Homo sapiens: one gene and its partner. The protein of the gene in region 2 interacts with the protein of the main gene of each other region in a pairwise test. Each region holds a gene or a part of one and is shown on either strand. Other genes may lie near its edges.

Region 1 (7,027 bases), on a different chromosome or scaffold from region 2:
GGGAGGCTGCAGTGAACTGAGATCACGCCATTGCACTCCAGCCTGGGCAACAAGAGTGAAACTGTCTCAGAAAAAAAAAAAAAAAAAAAAAAAAGAGGAATAGTCAGTGGCCAGGTGTGGTAGCTCACGCCTGTAATCCCAGCACTTTGGGAGGCCGAGGCAGGAGGATCGTTTAAGTCCAGGAGTTCAAGAGCCAGCCTGGGCAACGTGGTGAAACCCTGTCTCCACAAAAAAAAATACAAAAATTAGCCAGGTGTGGTGGCGCACGCCTGTGGTCCCTGCTACTCAGGTGACTAAGGTGGGAGGATTGCTTGAGCCTGGGAGGTTGAGGCCGCAGTGAGTTGAGATCAAGCCAGTGCATTCCAGCCTGGGTGACAGAGCTAGACCCTGTTTCAAAAGAAAAAAAGCAATAGTCATACATCACCTAATGACAGGGATGCATTCTGAGAAGTGTGTTGTTAGGCAATTTCACTGCTATCCGTACACCACAGGGCATCTTTACACAAACCCAAATGGGATAACCTACCACTACACACCTAGGCTATATAGTGTAGCTTATTGCTCCTGGTCTACAAACCTGTGTAGCATGTTACTGTACTAAATACTATAGGCAACTGTGACACAATGGTAGGCATTTGTGTATCTAAACATAGAAAAGATGCAGTAAAAATATTTTTTATATATATATATATACACATATATATATACGTATATATATATGTGTATATATATATATGTTTTTTTTTTGAGATAGAGTCTCACTCTGTTGCCAGGCTGGAGTGCAGTGGCATGATCTCAGCTAACTGCAACCTCTGCCTCCCAAGTAGCTGGGACTACAGGCACACGCCGCCACACCTGGCTAATTTTTTGTATTTTAGTAGAGACAGGGTTTCACTATGTTGCCCAGGCTGGTCTCAAACTCCTGAGCTCAGACAATCCACTCGCCTCGGCCACCCAAAGTGCTGGGATAACAGGTATGAGCCACCACACCCGGCCAGAATATTATAATCTTATGGGACCATCGTCATATATACAGTTTATGACTGAAACATCATTATGTGGCAAATGACTACTTTGATTTTTTTAAAATATCAACTATAGTTATTTTAACAGGGAGATATAGACCATTTTTGTTTTCCTCTTCTTTTCTGTATATAAAAACTAACGAACAAATCACTGTTTCTCAAAACACTCTTGCCTTCAAGGGGCTCAGTCCAGGAGGGGCGATGAGGGGTGAGGACTAAAGCCAGGCAATCCAGTGTGGTTAAGAGTACAGAGCCTGGAGCCAGACTGCCCGGGGTCGAGGCCTACCTCTACCCTCAGTAGCTGTACCACAGAGAAGTTGCTGCAACTCTAAGCTGCTTCAGTTTTCATCTGTAGACTGGGAATAACAATACCGCCCAGCTTATGAAGTTACTGTGACCAATCAAATGAGGATCACAGGGGCTGAGTGTGATAAGAAGTCATGCACACCAAATGCTGAACACACACGCAAGCAGCACAGGCCCCTGTAAATGTCAGCCCTGCAGAGCTCTAAAGAATCCCAGAAGAAAATGACCTCTACACTGTAGGCAGAGAAAGCAGGATATGCAAAGGCAGGGAAGTGGGGCACCGTGAAAAAGTAAAGGGGAATGGGTCAGCCTAGGGATCGGAGTGCAAAGAGGGATAGAGTTAAGTCTGGGAGGCCGATTGGGGGCCACCCCTCTACCCCCCTGAAATCAGATCTTCAGCCTAAGGCAAGGCCTTCCAGGGAGAAAGCATCAGAACCCTCCAGGCAAGATCAGGTGAGGGCCTGAATGAAGGCAAAGGTGGTCAGGCAGGGGTAGATTTGGAGGGGGAAGAAAGAACACAGATATGAATGACTGACTGACTGGGAAGGTGGAAAAAAAGGACAGAAGAGGGGAGAAAGAGAGGTAGGCAGGTGTCAGTAATAGATCTGGCTGGACAACTGGGCAGATGATGGTGCTTTTTGCTGCTAGGGAGTGCAGAGGAGGAAGTTTAGTGAAGCATGGATGAGAAAAGGAGAAACTTCGTTTGGAAAATGTTGAATTTGGCATGTTCATGGGGCAGTAGTAACAAGGCACTCTATAGATCAGAAGAGACACTGGGCTGGAGATATGCAATTTGGCTTTAATGACCAAGCTACTTTAACAACTGTTTACTTTCAGACCAAACCATGATTAAAGATTACCAATATACTGCGGAAGAGCAACACTGGCCGTAAACCTCCCTAAGGGATAGAGATTAGCAATTACTCTCACGCACACTTCTTACATACCTAGATGATCACATCTTAGCAGTTCATACCAGTCAGATCTTAGGTCACTCATACAAGTGTATGCCTACCTCAAAGCCTTTCTGAGAGTTAAGTAAGATTCTGCATGCAAAGTACTCAACCTGGTCGGGTGCGGTGGCTTACATCTGTAATCCTAGCACTTTGGGAGACCAAGATGGGAGGATCGCTTGAGGTCAGGAGTTCAAGACCAGCCTTGTCAACATGGTGAAACCCAGTCTCTACTAAAAATAAAAAATATTAGCTGGGTGTGGTGGCAGGCAACTGTAATCCTAGCTACTCAGGAGGCTGAGGCAGGAGAAGTGCTTGAACCCAGGAGGCGAAGTTGCAGTGAGCCGAGATCATGCCACTGCACTCCAGCCTGGGTGACAGAAAGACTCCATCTCAAAAAACAAAAGTGCTCAACCTAGTACCCACACAAGGTAGGGGTTAAATATACGTGCACATTTCTGATACCCCCGTTACCTCCTGCTGATACACCAAAAACTATTGTCAGGTTACCTCTGCTAAGCCCTTGCCTTCGATCATTGAAGCATTTACTCTATAATTTCTCCCCCACCCAATGTCTCTCCCATTTGCCAGGGATGAACACACCCCTGGCTCGTCTCCTTCCCACCCCCTATCTCTCCCTCCTCCACTCTGCGGCTCTCCATCAAGCCTCCATCTCTAGTCCATCACGGTTCTCCTGGAGAAAGATGATGGTGACTCATGCCTGAAGGGCAGCAGTGGCGAATGAGAAGCAGTAGACTGGGGTGTTTTGGGAGGCAGAGTTGATGGGATTTACTGATGGGATGGAGGATTCAAGGATGACTTTTAGGTCTCTGATTTCCACAACCAGGTGTAGAAGTGCTTCAGTGAGTGAAGGGAAAGAGGGAGGTAGCAGATAGGGGGAAGATGTAGGGAGGGGAGCCACTGGTTTGGTCGTGTTGGGTATCTGCAATTAGACCTTGGGGTTAATAATGATCACCGATAGGCCGGGTGTGGTGGCTCATGCCTGTAATCCTAGCACTTTGGAGGTTGAGGAGGACAGATCGCTTGAGGTCAGGAGTTCAAAACCAGCCTGGCCAACATGGTGAAACCCTGTCTCTACTAAAAAATAAAAAAAAATCAGCCGGGTGTGGTGGCGGGCGCCTGTAGTCCCAGCTACTCGGGAGGCTGAGGCAGAATCACTTAAACCCAGCAGGCGGAGGTTGCAGTGAGCCAAAATCATACCACTGCACTACAGCCTGGGCAACAGAGCGAGACTCCATCAAAAAACAAAAAACCCAGAAACAAAACAATAATGATCACTGATAGTATTTTCATGGGCAAGTTAAATTTGTGATTGAGTGGAATTCTTTGTGTTTTCTATATGTTCCCAAATTTCTTGGAAGCCAGAAACATGCCTCATCCATCACTTGTTAAGTGAATGGTACCCAGGGACTTGTATCTTGTAGACACCAAGTTCATGCCTACAGCACCAACTGCATTCAGTCACAAGTTGGCCAGTTGCTTTGCTTTCCTCATACACAACTCATCACCCCTATAATTTGTCCAAATTCTTCTCAGTTTTCAATGGGAAACCCTTATAACAGGCCTAAGGGAAAATAAAAGTTATTTTATAACATGGATTTTCCAGGACCAAACACAGCAGGGACTCCTAGAATTCTTTACATTGTTTTTATAGTGTTAAAAAAAAAAGAAAAAAAAGAAAGAAAACAAAACATACCCTATCAATGGCACTGCCCTTCTTCTGAGCATAAGAGCCCCAGAGCAAGAAAACAAGGCCATTCGAGTTCTGATTTAGCCAGGACACAACTGCATCAGTGAACTGCTCCCAGCCTCGCTCCTTATGAGAGTTGGCTTGATGGGCACGAACCGTGAGGACAGCGTTGAGAAGGAGAACACCTATACACATGAGAGAAACAGGTTAAATGTAGGCTCAGGCAAATCAGCCCAATACCCAGCAACAGGAGCTAAATCCATGATGAAACCAATGCTTGATGGGATCCAGTGTAGCAAGCTGTGCTTCCCTGCTGCAGCCGGCATAATGGCAGCAGCCACTACCATCAACAATGGAGTCGGGGCTGGGCGTGGTGGCTTATGCCTGTAATCCCAGCACTTTGGGAAGCCGAGTCGGGCGGATCACCTGAGGTCAGGAGTTCGAGACCAGCCTGGCCAACATGGTGAAACCCTGTCTCTACTAAAAATACATTAAAAAATTAGCCAGCTATGGTGGCTCATGCCTGTGGTCCCAGCTACTCAGGAGGCTGAGGCATGAGAATCGCCTGAACCTGGGAGGCAGAGGTTGCAGTAAGCTGAGATTGCACCACTGCACTCTAGCCTGGGCAACAGAGTGAGACTCGGTCTCAAAAAAAAAAAAAAAAAAAAAATCTAGCAGTCGCTGGCTTACCTTGCTTGGCCCACCCAGATAAATCTCCATGGCCAGGATGAACAAAATCCTCTATGTCTGTAGACAACTCTTTATAAATGTTCTCCAAACTGAAAGCAAGCCACAAGAAAAACAAAAAACAGAATCTTAAGCATAATTTTGAAAGCTCAGTAACGTCTAAGACATATGTGAAAAGGTTAGAAGTTACAGCCAGCCCTTGGAAGGGACACTGGCACATATGGCGCCGATTAATGAGATCAACACTGCCAGTCCTCCTTCTAACAGGTGACTCTGCCAAAGACCTTTACTTTAGTCTGTACTTGGATTTAACAGCACTCTGGAAAACCTAAGTAAATCAACCCAGCAGTTACAACCCAGACCCCCACTGTTGCTCAGGGACAGTTTTCTGTCCTTAGCATATTTATGTATATCATACACCAAATCCTCCAAAAGCAGTGGTTCTTTTTTTTTTTTTTCCAGTCTTGCTGTGTCACCCAGGCTAGAGTGCAGTAGCAGGATCTCGGCTCACTGCCACCTCCGCCTCCCGGGATCCAGCGATTCTCCTGCCTCAGCCTCCCAAAGTGCTGGGATTACAGGCGTGAGTCACCGCGCCCGGCCCAAAGCAGTGGTTCTTAACCAGGGGTGATTTTACGCCCCCAAGGGACTTTTGGCAATGTCTGCACATTTTTCATTATCACGAGCTGGGGGTTGCTCCTGGTTTCCAGTGGTAGAGGCCAGGGATGTGGCACAAGATCCTGCAATAGCACAGGACTCCTCTCCTCCTCCACAACAAAGAATGACTCAGCCCCAAATGTCAATGGTGCTGAGGCCGAGAAATCCTCCTCCAAGGCTAGTGAACAGTGCCCCAGATAGTCCCACTTGTAATAAGCTAAGTACACATCTGAAAGGAATCATGTCTGGACTGCAGTCACCTGTAAAGCAACTGTACCTGGGCGGAGGCGGAACAGGCCTTTGAACACTAAAGCAGAGCCCGTGAGCTTGATTAGGTCCATGATATGGATCCTGTCCCAGGATGACAACCTTCACCTGTGAACCACCAGGGGTCAGGAATTAAACAATACTGTAATGTAAGCAGCACAGACCCTGCCTCAAACAAACATAAACAAAACAAATAAAACACTTCTATGGCATAGATTGCTAATAGCAGAGTTGCTGGTCAAAGGCTAAGCGTATTTTAAACTTGTAAAGATATGTACCTAGCTGCTTTTTTAATTTTTTGAGACACGGTTTTGCTGTGTTGCTCAGGCTGATGTGCAGTGGTGCCATCACAGCTCATGGCAGCCTCGCCCTCCTGGGCTCAAGTGGTCCTCCCACCTGAGCCTCCAGAGTAGCTGGGCCCACAGGAGTGCACCACTATGCCCACCTAATTTTTTTTTTACTTTTTGTAGACACACGGCCTCCCTTATGTTGCTGAGGCTGGTCTCAAATTCCTGAGATCAAGGGATCCTCCCTCCTCGGCCTCCCAAAATGCTGGGATTACAGGCATGAGCCACTGTGCCTAGCCCCCAGTTACTTTTCGATGAATTAAAGCAATTTAGGGCCTGGCATGGTGGCTCACGCCTGTAATCCCAGCACTTTGGGAGGCCGAGGTAGGCAGATCACGAGGTCAAGATATCGAAACCATCTGGCCAACATGGTGAAACCCCATCTCTACTAAAAATACAAAAATTAGCTGGGTGTGGTGGCGCACACCTGTAGTCCCAGCTACTCGGGAGGCTGAGGCAGGAGAATCGCTTGAACCCAGGGGGTGGAGGTTGCAGTAAGCCGAGATTGCACCACTGCACTCCATCTCAAAAAAAAAAAAAAAAAAAAAAAAAAAAAGCAATTCAGATTTCCCACCAGCAGCATATGAGGGTGTCTGCTCCCCTATATCCTCTAACAGGTGGAGCCAGAAGAGAATGAGGTCAGATCAAAAGGGCCATGGGAGTAGGTGGCAAGAGACAATGAAATGAAATGAAGTTCCTGTCACGGGAGGTGTTGAAACATAGGCCGCCTCGTCCTTCCCATCCAGGGCCCACCCACCTAGTCTTCATTCTCAAGCTTCTGCCATTGCGTTCTTAGAATCTTCCTCCACAGCTGACATACTCTATCTTTCAGAATCCAGCTCCAGATGTTCCATGACCAGGAGGCTTTTGGGGACCTCTTGTCCCTCCCCTTGGTGTTCACACCATGCCAACATATTCTCTTGTGAAACAACTCTCCCAATGCTGGTCTGTCAAGAAGCCCTGCTGGCCCATCTGATCCTCATAGGTTTGAAACTGGTTTTTGAGCATTCCCTCAAAATATTCCTTTTAATATTCCCTGTTTATACTGATTACTGGTATTCAGAATAGGGCATTCAA
Region 2 (7,514 bases):
TATAAATTTATAATATATTTATAATATATAAATATATACAATATTTAATACTTTAAATAAAATATTTAATTTAAATATTAATATTAAATATTTAATTTAAATAAATATATAATTTAAATAATTTAAATATAATATTTAAAGATAAATAATATATAATTAATATATAATAAATTTATAAAATATAAATTATAAATAAATTTATAAATACAGACTTATAAATCTTTATAAATTATAAATACAGATTTATAAATTATCCTGTCTCAGGTATTTTGTTCTAGAAGCACAAATGGATTAGGATACTGCCTTTAGAAGTGTATATACTGTGCACAGAAAACCTCTGGAAAGTTATGCCCCAATGTTAATAGCAGTTATTTATGAGAATGGGATTTGAGATCTTTTTTTCTTTTTTCTTATTTGCATACACTGATTTTCCTAAAATAAACAAGTAAGCAAAAATAAACAAGTAAGCATGCATAACTTGTGTAACTCCTTTGTTTCTACACTGTCGCCCAGGCTGGAGTGCAGTGGCACGATCTCGGCTCACTGCCTCCTCTGCCTCCCAGGCTCAAGCCATCCTCCCACCCCAGCCTCCTGAGTAGCTAGGACTACAGGCACATGCCACTACACCCAACTAATATGCTTTTCCGTATTTTGTTTTTATAGATCTGGGGTTTTGCCATGTTTCCAAGGCTGATCTTGAACTCCTAGGCTCAAGCTATCTGCCTGCCTCAGCCTCCCAAAGTGCTGGGATTACAGGCATGAGCCACTGTGCCTGGCCAATTTTTAGTTTTATTTTTTAAACAGAAATTAACCTCAAAATCCCATAGACTTGAGTTTCATCCCGAATCAAAAAACCAAAGCCCAAATCAATCACAGTCCCCTGAACACCAACCACCTCGTGATGGAGCTGCAATCAGAGCAACTGCATTTTCTCTTCCTCAGTGAGATCTGTGAATACCTAAGACTTGAATGCATGGTGTGACTATAAAGCCACGCCTGAGTTTTCTTAAACACTCGAGAACTTATAAATTCAAGAAGTGCTGTCTTTCAAAGTCACTCTGCTTGTTTCAGCTTTGAATTTCCTCCATGAAATTGTCTTCAGAGCTGGTTTAGTAACGCCAAAGAAAATAAATTTCATTATAATTCAGAAGAAACACTTGCTTAAGTCACAGTCTTATTCCTCTTTTCATGCCCTCTTTCTTAGTGTTCTTTATTTTTATTGCTAATGTGTTTGACTAAGACCTCAAGGTCCTATTGTTGAAAACCTGGGGAAAAGAGTGTGGGAAGAGGTTCTGAGGCATAATAAAGCCTGGGGCTTGGGGAGGAGTACAGGGAGGGGGCTGGACAGTTTGAATGTGAGGCCCAAAAGTAAGGTGACCATATCATTTATCACCCCATTCTGGTATACTTTTGAGTGTGAAAGAGTCATGATTAATAATCATGTCAGGTCAACCAGGATGTATGATCACCCTATGTGAATAGGGAGAAAGTCAGGAAGGCACTCTAATATTTGTCCACTTGGGCTACCTTTAGGGCAAGAGATGCACCAGTATAACTGACCAAGGGCCATAAATGTGAATTGCCGGAAGTGGAGGATGGCTTCTATTTGAGGATGGAGCTATCATTACATTTGATCATTGGGACAGATCCATCTTTAATTTAGGGAAATCTTATTCAGTGAAAAAGTTACATTGAATTTCTTGAAAGTACTTCTAATAGGTTAAAAGATTTTGTGACTACTTACACATTCAGATACTCCTTGGAAATGAAAAGATTTTTAAGGCATTATAATACACCCACCCACCTACACATGTTCTTGTCACCTTCTAAGACTCCACCATAACCCTGGAATTCTCACATTTCCTTCTCCCCTCAAAAGACTGACAAAAGATTAAACAGCCAACAAAATCCCCCTAATTGCATGGTCATTCAGTCTAAGTTGTTCTCCCATTCACTGCCTTATAGTCTGTTCTTTTGTCTTGTGTTTTCCATCTGTGCAAAGCTGCAGTCTCATTGAGTTTGTTGGCTTTCCCACTTAAGTTGTTTATTGTACCAAATCTCATTCATTCTGGTGGAAATCAGCCTGTAACACAAGGGTCCATGCCATATATGTTAAATATTGCTTTGTTTTTTAAGCCACTGCTTATTGTAACACACATCTTACCAAATTCAAAAAGCAAGAAATCTACAAATCTTTCTTTCAATAGTTTCAAAGTTAACTTTATTACCCATAATACATACTTCTAAAAGAATGCCAGAATAGCTGAATTCATACATTTCACAAAAATTTATTGAGTTCCTCTTTTTTGTAGGTGCACTAGGAGAAATCACACAGTTCCCTACCTCAAGGCTCTCACAGCAAACAAATCTAAAAAAATGATTGAACTGTATACTTAACATTTGTGTACTTTAGGTAAATTATACCTCAATAAAAATATAAATAAAACCAATTTTGCTATATGCTATGGGCTTTTATAGGTCAAGAAAATTGATCTTTGGATTCTCATAACACATTTTTTTAAACAGGCTACTTATTTTAGATATTTATTTTTCCCCGAGTAGAATGGATTAATTACAAGTAATGACATTGGATCAGTCTTGCCTCTTTTAAGCATAGGCCTTTACTGTAATCTGCTTCCAAACAATCCCAATAAAATCGTTGATTTTAAGAGTCAAAAAGTTGCTCAGAGCCTTCTTCAGGGACTCTTAACTTTTTCTGCCACATGGATCCTTTGAAACTCTGATAAAAGCAAAGCTATAGACTTCCTCCCTGGAAATATACACATGCACCAAGATTTTGGGATAAACACACCACTGAAAACCATGCAGGGACCACTTAGGAACCCAAAGATCTCAAATTAAGATCCACTGAGATAACACAATCCTTTTCCTCCAGATGAAAGCAATAGACCCAGGGAGCGAAAACAGCCTGTTTAGGGGCTGAAGACAGAACCCAGCCTTCTGATACTGCTTACTCCACTGTCTCTTTAGATATCATTAAGTTCCCTTGGCCCCCAAAACTCCCATCTGTGGATCCCCTGAGTTTAGAAGAACTTCCACAGTACCTTGTAGCCTACCTTTTATAACTGGAGTCACGCCGGAAGCTGGTCAAAGTTTACCTTTTACTTATTGGAGAACAACAGGTACAAAGCAGAGTTTCTTATATTAAATTGGGACATTTTTCTCTTTTTTTCCTCAAAACCGAGAATGGAAGTGAAAATTAAAATCCAGCAATAAAGGGTTTTCTTTTTAGTTTAATGAAATCAACTCTAAAATTTGCTTTTATTTATATTCTGAAATTTAAAACTTTGTTCTTCGTTGATCTTTATAACATTGGAAAGATTGAACTTACACTTTGCTCTGTGAATCTTTCAATGGTTTGTGACCAAACCATAAATTTCAACCCGACCCAGGAAATTTCTGCGACTTGTGCCCACCCAGTTTTGCAGTTTGGAACAGAATTCTTGCTCCCAATCCAAATAGAGACTGAGAGAAATGAAAGAGGACCCAGAAAGCCTTTTCTTCTCTGTGAAAGGCCTGATCCTAAGTGGCGCAATCAATAAAGAAAAGGGTTCAAGGTGCAGCCTACAAATTTCTTAGAGTTTAATGTGTTCAGGTTGAGGTGGAGAAATTACATAAACCTGTGAATAGACATGGAATAGAAGCCATGTGTATATGCATTCTGTCCCTAAAGGTTTTGCTAGGTACTTACTAAGCTATTCCTTCTGTGCAATCATCTTTCGTTTTTCTACTTGTATGGATGAAAGCCTACCTTCACTGAACACTTCACCTTATGTGCCAGCTATTGTTCTAAACCCATTACATTATTTAATCTTCACGACAATTCTTTAAGGTAGTCTTATTACTATGCTCATTTTATAGATGAGCAAACAAGTTTTCAGGGGTCAAGAAATTTGAGCAAGTTCACATTAACTTGTAAATCACGAAATTGAGCATCAGATACAAGCATCTGGCTGCACTTCCTGAGTTTGTACGTCCTACTCTCATAAAATAGATACATTGAAGACTGAGAAAGAATACTGTTGGCCGATTCCTCAGGCAATAATTTTTTCGATATTGTATTGTTGTCTCAGAAACCTCCAGCCTCTCTCATTGATGGACGGTAGGAGGGGCACATGGAGTGGACCAGGAGTGGGCAGGAGTGGGGTGGGGGCGTGCTTTTAGAAGCGTTTCGGGGGAACGACAAGGCGCGGGTCGTAGAGGTCTACCCTCTCTGCAGTCCCAGCATGGCTCCTGGAGCTCTCTGGGCGGCCGCTGACCCCGACATCGCGGCGGCCCGCCCCCAGCGCCGCGCTGCCCAATCAGCGGCGCGGCCTGGTGCCCCGCCACTCCGCGCCGGCCATATAGGCCTCCTCCTGGCGCGCCTCCGCACCGCATTGGTGGACCGGCCCCCAGCCCGTCCATGGGCGTTGTGGCCGCCACCGCAGGTTCCGCCTCCCGTTCCCTCCGCCCTCAACGTACGTCGCACCGCCTCTCTGTAGCCGCCCGCGGAGCATCGCAGCCGGCCCGGGCCCCCGCCAGCCTCCCTCCTCGCGTCCCTCGGTGTCCTCCGCGGGCCGGCGCGATGCGGCTGGGCCCGAGGACCGCGGCGTTGGGGCTGCTGCTGCTGTGCGCCGCCGCGGCCGGCGCCGGCAAGGCCGAGGAGCTGCACTACCCGCTGGGCGAGCGCCGCAGCGACTACGACCGCGAGGCGCTGCTGGGCGTCCAGGTGAGGCGGCCAGGCCGGTGCTGGGAGGGCCGGGCCTCGCACCGCGGCTGCCGCGGGCTTTGTCCCGGGACAAAGGGGGGCGGCCGGGCGAGGCCTGGCAGGGGCGGCCTGACAATGGGGGCCGGGCGGCGCGGCACTCGCTCTCTGGGGGTCCTGGGGCCTGGAAAGCCTGAGGAGATAGCACGGCCCAAGAGCTGGATCCCTTCTACCCCTCAGATCATGGAGGGTGTGTAGGGGGTAGGGGCCTTGAAGTGCAGGTGCGGGTCACCCCGAAACCCTTTGGCAAGGGGGTCTTCTAGTAGCCCTGTTTTTCTCCACCATTTTGCCCCACTGATAGTAATGCTTGGCCCTCCTGTGTGTCGCTTCCCCCTAAAGGAAGATGTGGATGAATATGTTAAACTCGGCCACGAAGAGCAGCAAAAAAGACTGCAGGCGATCATAAAGAAAATCGACTTGGACTCAGATGGCTTTCTCACTGAAAGTAAGGACTGCCCTACACGACTAACAATGGAGACAAACACAAATATGTTAAGCAGCGGTGTCTGCTGAATGTATAGATTGCTAGTGTCCCAAGTTGGAAGTCCTGTGAGAAGGAGAAAAGGACATGGAGAATAGGCTTTATACTTACAAATCTTTAGACACTGAGAACCAAGTAAAACTCGGTGCTTTCTCCAGTTATATATAAACATCATTGACCCTGTACTCTATGTGGAAGTCACACCTTGAGACACCCTCTTTCTCACGTGACTTTTGTTAGTGTCAACAATATGATTTATTTTAGAGAAATATGCCCCAAAACTTTAAGGCAGTAAATGATTTATCGCTCTTTTGATATATGCTTCATTTAAATTTTAGGAATTTGCTTCTTTTTTTAAGCAAGTAGAAAAAGACCTGTTGCCTGTGAATTACGTTTATTATAACATTATACCAAAATGTTAGAGCTGGTAGGGGCCTTGGGATCATCTTGTCCACATCACTTTGTAGAGATGAAGAAATGAAGCACAGGGATAAGTGCCTTCTACAAATAAGTGGCAAAGCTGGACTAGAATCCAGGTATCCTGCTCTTAATTCAGGTTTTAATATCCTTCAGTTAAAAAAAAAAATCTGATGCTCTCAGGTAAATTCTCTAGTCAGAAATGAAATGCACAGACTATTAAAAGAATGTTCTAAATAAATTGCTGTGCAGTTGTCTCTCCCCATTGTTCAATTCAAATGATGTTCCCTGTCAGCGTTCCAAGTGGGTCCTCAGAAAAATTCAGGTTGTTATTGTGACTCTTAAGTTAGCTGTTTTTCTGTAACTCTCATTTAAATGCTGTTCACCATCAAGGAATTAAGTTGCTGGAGACAATTAAAAACTGGTAAATTTAAGATGTGCTGTCAATGACATATTCACATTGGAACCCTCTGGAAGATTAAGGGCTTTTTTCTTCCACTTAGTTAGACAATAATAACAAGACCTTTGGTCTCTGATTATCCAATCTAAGAATAAGTCAATCTTTGGTTATACTAGAGTAATCAAAGAACACAACACGTTGATTTGGAAGACTGCGTGGTACCTATCTGTCAAGACCTAGATATGTTCAAATATTTAATAGTAAGGTTTTAAGAAGTTTAAACTTAGAAAAGTTTTAGTCCAAATATTCATTATACAGATGAGAAGAAAAGCTTGAGATGGTAAACTACCCCCTGATGGCAAAGCTGAAGTGTGAACCCACATTTCTGATCCCTGTTCCATTCTGTTTTCTTCTATGCCATGGTGATCTCTTTAAATAAACTAGAAGAAAGATTCATGGTGCTTACGAAAGCCTTCATTCTACTTGAGGACCCTTAAGATAATTTTGGCAATTTGCTCTTTGAGGGCCAGGTCTGGAATCAGATGTTAAGAGGTAGCAAAACTCAGTAGGAGTTGGCTTTGAAGCCAGACAGGTTTGAATCTGGACTCTGCTATTTACTAGTTGTGAAGGCTTGGACTTTTCTGAACCTCAGTTTCCTCACCTGTATAATAGTGATGATTATAATTGCATTGTTTTGAAGATTAGAGGCAACATGTACAGAGGAACCTGATAAATGGTATACTCATGCTGTCCTCACAAATATTCGTGTTCGTCCCTCCCTTTGTTTCCTTTAACGTAGTTTAGTAAATATTTTTATGAATAGTTTTTTGTTTTTTTTTTTGAGGCAGAGTCTCGCTCTTGTCACCCATGTTGGCGTGCAGTAGTGTGATCTTGGCTCACTACAGCCTCTGCCACCCAGGTTCAAGTGATTCTTCTGTCTCAGCCTCCCAAGTAGCTGGGATTACAGGCACTGGCCACCATGCCCGGCTAATTTTTGTATTTTTAGTAGAGACGGGGTTTTACCCGAGACCAGGCTGGTCTCGAAATCCTGACCTTAGGTGATCCGCCTGCCTCAGCCTCCCAAAGTGCTGGGATTACAGGCGTGAGCCACTGAGCCCAGCCAAATAGATTTTTTAAAAGTTGATTGAAAAGTGAACATTTGAATTTTAGAAACTTTCCCATGCCTTCAGGTACCAAGTTAAGACAGATAGCTGTTGCAGGAAGGGCATAAATTGCTACCCATAACTTCGTTAAAATTTACTCCAGATGTTTTAACAACATATTTAAAGGTAATATACTGAAGCAGTATTCTCAGTCACTTGAATACCTTTTCAGAATTTAGGCCATATCTACTTAACCATCTATTATTTTCTTACTATAGTTTTAATTCAACTCACATAAAATTTATTTTAAAGGAAGACTTTATGTCACCTTCATAAATAAAAAACACT

What was found. Proteins that work in one complex are often made in the same cells at the same time.
Region 1: the proteins of RCN2 (region 2) and UNG interact in binary tests that used the Homo sapiens proteins (3 or more experiments, as listed by UniProt).

What each region holds. Positions count from the first base shown.
Region 1 is NC_000012.12:109,100,586-109,107,612, reverse strand, and holds part of UNG (uracil-DNA glycosylase), read right to left. Parts: intron 5,712-7,027; coding exon 5,614-5,711; intron 4,775-5,613; coding exon 4,686-4,774; intron 4,181-4,685; coding exon 4,002-4,180; intron 1-4,001. UniProt on the Homo sapiens protein: Uracil-DNA glycosylase that hydrolyzes the N-glycosidic bond between uracil and deoxyribose in single- and double-stranded DNA (ssDNA and dsDNA) to release a free uracil residue and form an abasic (apurinic/apyrimidinic; AP) site.
Region 2 is NC_000015.10:76,927,257-76,934,770, forward strand, and holds the start of RCN2 (reticulocalbin-2 isoform a precursor), read left to right. Parts: upstream 1-4,492; 5' UTR 4,493-4,585; coding exon 4,586-4,729; intron 4,730-5,104; coding exon 5,105-5,210; intron 5,211-7,514.